Homo sapiens: one gene and its partner. The protein of the gene in region 2 interacts with the protein of the main gene of each other region in a biochemical or structural test. Each region holds a gene or a part of one and is shown on either strand. Other genes may lie near its edges.

The links.
Region 1: the proteins of PDZD9 (region 2) and DGKK interact in a test that uses a peptide from one of them, tested with the Homo sapiens proteins (one large-scale study listed by IntAct).

Annotation. Positions count from the first base shown.
Region 1 is NC_000023.11:50,387,273-50,390,924, forward strand, and holds part of DGKK (diacylglycerol kinase kappa), read right to left. Parts: intron 3,138-3,652; coding exon 3,056-3,137; intron 1,347-3,055; coding exon 1,255-1,346; intron 382-1,254; coding exon 282-381; intron 1-281. UniProt on the Homo sapiens protein: Diacylglycerol kinase that converts diacylglycerol/DAG into phosphatidic acid/phosphatidate/PA and regulates the respective levels of these two bioactive lipids.
Region 2 is NC_000016.10:21,991,083-21,994,734, reverse strand, and holds part of PDZD9 (PDZ domain-containing protein 9), read left to right. Parts: intron 1-3,652.

The sequences.
Region 1 (3,652 bases), on a different chromosome or scaffold from region 2:
GTGTACAACCATGCACATACCTGCTTGATGTACACTTGTGTCTAGTTGTGGGCAGATGCTTGGCATGTACATGGTATGTGTGTATGCATGCAGAGCGCCATCCTTCATTTAGCAAAAGATGGAAGTTCAATGAGGTTAGACCTTCCTCATCAGGGAGGCTTAACAGCTGCCCCTCCTTTCCTTTCTTTTACCATTCCCAGTGAGAGGCATGTTTGCTTTTTATTAAAAAGGGCCCCTGGCTGCTCCACAAAGAGTATAAGACAAAAGGAATGGGAACTTACTTTCAAAATCACAGACACTATTGCAGTGTTGTTCTGTTTTATCTGACCCCAGGCCTTTACAATATCAACCACAAAATCTTCCACAGCTGAACACAAGAATCTGGAAAGATAAAATAGATGGCACAATGTTACATGAACCATGAGGCCCAGAGCCCTTCTCTCTTATGTCATCAGTCCCCATCCTCCTCCTCTCTCTCTTTCCTGATCTGTCCTCTTTCTCTCACCCTCTGCTCCCAGCCTTTTTCTCTCTGCTTTTTTTTTCCTGTGCATATGGTGAAATATGTTCCATCCCCACTTTAGTTCAGTGTCACACCACTTCCCAAGTCAAGAACCTAATAGAGCTTGACCAGCATTTCTTAGTACTAATTCTGAATTTCCAGAAAAGAGAATTCACTTGGTCCAACTTGGGTCAGGTTTTCACCTAGGTTCAATCAGCTATGTTTCAAGGGCCCAGCTAATTTAGTACAAACAATTATATTGGGAGGACTCTCCCTGTGGGAAGTTTTTCTCAAAGGAGAGTGTAGTCGACTGGGCAGGAGCCCCCTAAGAAGTCCCAGAAGAAACAAATGACCCACATATTTAGAAGGGGGAATGTGTTCCTCAGGTTATGAGAAAGCAGCTATAGGCAGATATTGCAGAGACCTTTCTTAATGTCAAAGACGGAAAGCAAGGTGTCTATACTATAGGGAGCTATGCTATGCTCCTAAATGGTCTATAATGTTGTGTTTCCCTACTATAATTCTCTTCCCAAATCTCTGGCTTGCAATTTTGACTTTTTGGAGCAGCAGACGACTTCACCTCAATGTCATCTTTCTTTCCTAAACTTTCCATTCAGGGGGTTTGAGTTGGGAGAAATCTGATTTGGGAACATAAACATGTATTTTCCTTGGCCTCAACACCCTCAGCTATCAAAATGAGCCCCATGTCTGACCTGGGAACAGCCCCAAAGGATGAGAGCCAAAGGAAGACTGACCTGGTTGCGATGATCATCTCTGTGGGGTACTTGGCCTTCAGGATTTTGTTCAACTCGGTGGCTGCAGATTCTAAGTGTTGGATGGCAGCAGCCTAGGGGCAAAAGGAGTTCTTAGCCCTGGAATCTTAGTACAATAACACAGTGTGCTGCCCATCCTCATCCCCTGCAGCCTCATTGTTTCTTACTGACTCTACCCGCAACTCAACTGCCTCTCTGGAAATGATAATGATCAAAGAATTCTTGTTGAAGGTCAACAGAGATGATCTTAGATCTATGCGTATTCTAAAAATTTAGATGTATTTCATTTTCTCTTAATAATCAAAACCTCATATGAAGGAGGTACTATTTCTTTCATGTTTCAAATGAACAAACAATCTCATATTACATAGCTAGTAAGGAATAAAGCTGGATTCGAATCTACATCTTTCCAATTCCAGAATGTAACTTCTTTAATAATATTACTACCAATAATAACAGCACCCACTTATATAGTACTGACTATGTGCCAGGCTCTGTTCTAAGCTACATGTATATTTTTTCATATAATCCTCATAACAACCCTATGAGATAAAGACTGTTATTATCTCCATTTCACAGAAGAGAAAGCTGAGCCCAGAGAAGGGAAAGATGATAAATTGTAGAGCCAGGATTCAATTCCAGGTAGTCTGGCTCTTGAGTCTGTGCTCTTAATTACAACTTCTACTCCTTCCTCTCTATCACCCTTGACATTCAAACATCTACCAAGACTTGATAATTCTATTTTTTGAGTATGTCTCAAATGTATCCACTGCTACTCATCCCTGCTACCACTTCACCAGTCCAAATCACCATCACCTCTTGCCTAGACAATTACAACATCTCCTAGCTTTTCTCTTTGCCTCTAGTCTTTTATTCCTTCAATTGTTTCTCCACATACCATGGCACTCCTCTACTTAAACCCCTTCTCTTAGATAGCAGACTGGATAGATGACTGGATATGTGATAAAGCACGCATAGGAAAATGTTAGTAGTAGAGCTACCATTTTAACTTTCATCAATGTAGAAATTTTCATAATAAGATAAGAAAAAAATCTTCTGTAATTCTTATTGCTCTTAGGATGAAATCCAAACTTCCTACTGTGGTTTATCAGGCCCTTTCTGGCCTGGCCCCTGATTACTTCTCTAGCCTCATCTTTAGTCACTCTCCCTGAATGCCCCCTTCCTGGCCCCTACGCCTCAGCCATTATGAATGTACTTCAGTTTCGTGAATATTCCATGCTCTCCCTTGCCTTTGGAACAATACACGCTGTTCCATCTGTGTGGAACAGCCCTCCCCTTTCTTATTCTCCTGGTTAATTCCCTCTGGATCTCAAGTATCTTGTGAAATGGCACTCCTTCTGAGCGGCTTTCCCTGATTTCCCCAGACTGAGATAGATCTTCCTGCTATGTGTTCCCAACCCCCTCTACTTCCTTATATACTAACACTCATACTACTTGATTAAAACAATTTATTTTTCCATCTATTCAAGTAGACTATGTCATTCTTCTTTACCCAGTAGCATATAAGAACATCTCCTAGAATAATATCTCACATAAAGTAGTTACTCCATAAATATTTTGAATGAATAAGTAAATGAGTGAATGAATTATATCCCCAGTGCTTAACATAGTTCTTGGTAAATAGCTGCTGACTGACATGTCACCAACTCTCAATGATCTCATCCTCATCCATGCACAATGCAAAAGCTTCTCTCTGGGTTTTGCCAATTATTTCACTGAGTAATAAAGATATTGGTCTGAATTACAGCTGAACAGTAGTTACCTCAAATCGTGGTACATCCATTTCAACCTGTCCTTTTAGCAGCGGGGTTTGTCTGGGAGTCTCACGAATCATCACACTCCATCTGAAATGAATTTCAAAGACGGATATTTAAGGGTCTGTTTCATGACTGGTAAAAATTAGTGCTTCAAAGGTGAAGACAGAAGTAAAAATGTTTATGTGGTGGGGGGAGGTGGGTTGTAGGGGGTGTCCAAGCAATCTCTGGTCACCTGATCTCAAGGTGACCATAAGAGGGACCTCTGTCTCATGACTTCTGTAGGCCAGTGTGATGGAAGGAATTGCCTTCCCTTTACAGGGTTCTCAGAGAGCAGTGCTTCTTAACCAGAGGTAACCATCAAGATCATCTGAGGTGCTTTTGTACAATACACATTCCAGGGCCCTGCCAAGACCTACTGAATCTTTGTGGTGGGGTTCAGGTTGATGTTTTTAAAAAGCTCCCCAGGAGATCCTTATGGGCAGCAATAAATCAAATGCTCCTATATACACCAGCATAGAAAGTCTTTTTTTCCTCAGGAGATAGGATGGTAGTACTTGCTCTTCTCTAGAGCAGTGACAATGTAAGCAAGTTATTTCTAAACT
Region 2 (3,652 bases):
ATGGCTCTCAGTGCGTAAAGATATTTTCTTTCGTAGGCAGTATTAAGCATTGCTAACACTTAGCTGCACGATCTCATTTCACTCTCACAATCCCTGAGCTAGATTCTGCATGAAACCACCTTGCAGACAAGGAATCAGATGTTTAGTAACTCTCCCATGGTCACTCTGAGGAGCTGGGATTTGAACCTTCTCTGTCAGACTTCAGAGCCTAAGGGCTTTACCAATACTGCCCTGCTCCTCGTGTCTTTGGGTGAATGAATTTTCCATGCAGTTCAAGAGGTGTTTTCTCAGTGCCTGGCCTGGGCCTAGTACTGTGCCCAGGAGTTGGGGAGGCAGAATGGGCTGGCGCCATGGTGAGAAAGAAAAAACATTGTGTTAGCTGTCCTGATTCAGGCTCAGGGTCTGACACTTTTTAGTTCTGTGACCCTGGGCAAAGCCACTTAACCTTTCAGGCCTTAGTCACCTCATCTTTGAATTGGGATATTCCTGTGTTTGTCAGAGGTTGCGCAGATTTGATGAAATAATGCATGTTTGTTTGATAGATGGGGTATCACTCTGTCACCCATGCTGGAGTGCAGTGGCTTGATCATGGCTCACTGCAGCCTTAAACTCCTTGGCTCAAGTGATCCTCCTGCTTCAGCCTCCTCAGTAGCTGGGACTCAGGCGTGCACCACCATGCCCAGCTAATTTTTATTTTATTTTTTATTTTTTTGTAGACATGGGCAATGGAGGTGGTGGGTGGGTGGTGTCTCACTATGTTGTCCAGGCTGGTCTCAAACTCCTGGCCTCAAGCAATCCTCCCATGTGGCCTCCAAAAGTACTGGGATTACAGGTGTGAGCCATTGAGCCCAACCTGATGAAATAATTTTTATGAAAGTGCTTTTAAAACTGAAGTGCTACAGAAATATTGGCAATCATCTCTTAGGCTGTTCTTACAGATTCTCTAGACTTTTGCATGTGTGTGTTTTAATAAAAAATGATGGCTGTATGGGGGTCCCAGTGGATTAAGCCACTGGTTTGCAACTCTGGTTACCTGTTAGAATCATCTGGGAAGTTTTTAAAACCAAGATGCCTGGTCCCTATCTCCCTACAGGTTTTTGATTCAATCGTTCTTGGACTGGGACAGGGCAGTTTATGTTTTAAAAGCTCCTCAGGTGATTCTAATTTGCAGCTAAGGGTTCCAAGCAATGGATTAAAGAAGAAAGCAGATACATAATGGTTTTATGAAACAGTTTGCTATACCTTAAAATCCAAAGCATTTTCCCCACACATCACTACTTGGTGGTGGAGAATAAACGGCGGCCGGTGGAGAGTTCTGGACTTACCAGAACAAAAGAACTCCAGGACAGGTCCCATGGGGAAGCTGCTGCTTCTCAGCTTCTTCAAGGTCAGGTGACAGATGCTGGGTGATGATCCGGGTGCATACTCCAGGGTGCTAGAGTGGGACAGGAGTATGCTTTTAGGTGGGCAACAGAGAATCTCATGGCACGGCTATAGTTAGTGGGCTCTTTGAGGTTAGAAGCAGTCTTGAATTTCATCTTTTAAATCCAGGACTCACCTACTGTATTAGTGCATTCTTACACTGCTGTAAAGATACTGCCTGAGACTGGATAATTTATAAATGAAGGAGGTTTAATTGACTCACAGTTCCGTACGGCTGGGGTGGCCTCAGGAAACTTACAATCATAGTGGAAGAGGAATCAGGCATTTTCTTCACAAGGCGGCAGGAGGGAGTGTGAGTGTGTGAAGGAGGAGCTGTCAAACACTCATAAAACCATCAGATCTCATGAGAACTCACTCACTATCATGACAGCATGGGGGAAACCACCCCCGTGATCCAATCACCTCCCTCCCTCCACAGGTGGGGATTACAATCGGCAATGACATTTGGATGGGGACACAGAACCAAACCATATTGTTCTGCCCCTCCATCTGCAAGCTGAAGAGCAGGGAAGCCAATAGTGGCTCAGTCCGAGTCCCAAAACCTCAAAAGTTGGGAAGCCGACAGTGTAGCCTCCAGTCTGTGGCTGAAGGCCTGAGAAACCCTGGCAAAACACTGGTGTAAGTCCAAGAGTCCAAAAGCCAAAGAACTTGAGTCTGATGTTCGAGGGCAGGAAGCATCCAGCACAGGAGAAAGATGAAGGCTGGAAGACTCAGCAAGTCTGCTCATTCCACCTTTTTCCACCTGCTTTTTCTAGCCTTGCTGGTAGCTGATTGGATGGTGCCTACCCAGATTGAGGGTTGGGTCTGCCTCTCCAAGTCCATTGACTCAAATGTTAATCTTTTCTGGCAACACCTTCACAGACACACCCAGAAACAATACTTTGCATCCTTTGAACCGATCAAGTTGACAATATTAACCGTCACACCTAAAGTAGTGGCTCATTTGTTATGTCTTTGCTTAATAAATAAATAATAAATATTTGTCCTAGGCATTGTGGGAGATATTTCCCCATCTATTATCTTTTTTTAACTCCAATTTTTAATTTTATTTGAATAAGAGACATGGTCTCACTGTCACACAGGCTGGAGTGCAGGAGTGCAGTGGCGCAATCATAGCTCACTGCAGCCTCGAACCCCTGGGCTCAAGCAATCCTCCTGCCTCAGTCTCCCAAAGTGCTGGGATTACAGGCATGAGCCACTTCACCTGGCCCCACGTGTTATCTAATTTAAAGTTTGCAACACTCCTGAAATGTAGATAATGAAATACAGAGGCGTAGAGAGATGAAATAACTTGTTCATCTTAGTTACACAACTGAGTCTGTGTTCAGAGCTGGGATTTGAACCGATGTGTGCCTAGAAAGCCCATACCTTTCTAGTCAATTGCCTAACAACTAGAAATGAGATTTGAATACAGAGGAAGTCCAGAGCCCCAAATCTCTTCGTGACAAGCCTGCCAGTTCTCCTCGGCATCATTCTAGGCTTTAAAATCTGTAACTCAGTGGTTTTAGACAATGATGATAAGATCTCGAGAGATGATAATTGTAGAAACATGCTATTTCTTTGACCCCGTTTCCTCCCAGCCCCATTATCTTTTATCTATGTGCTGAAATTTCTCTCCTTTGGTGTTTCAGGATAGGGTTTCACCTTGATTTCCTAATTTAGTTTAGTGTTAGTTTATTCTGGCTAAACTTTTAGTTCCTTTTGGGCAGTATGGCCTTAACAGATTCTGACATTCTAAGTCTTGAGAAATTAATGTAGGCCGGGTGCGATAGCACACACCTGGAATCTCAGCACTTTGAGAAGCTGAGGCGGGCAAATTGAGCTCAGGAGTTCGAGACCAGCTGGGGCAACATGACAAAACCCCATTTCAATAAAAAATACAAAAACTAGCCCAACATGGTGGGCATATGCGCTTGCAGTCCCAGCTCCTCCAGGGGCTGAGGCAGGAGGGTTGCTTGAGCCCTGGAGGTCGAGGCTGCAGTGAGCTGTATTTGTATCCCTGCATTCCAGCCTGGGTGACAAAGTGAGACCCTGTCTCAGGAGAAAAAAAAAAAAAGAAATTAATGTAGCTTCAACAGTAAATACAAGTCATGGACTGGCTACTGCCTAAGCAGTTCCTAAAGGCCTGGTGTGTGCAGACACCCAGCTAGGCACTGGGGGTGTAGTGGTGAACGGCACAGACATGGTCCTTAGCCTTGAGGAACTTAAG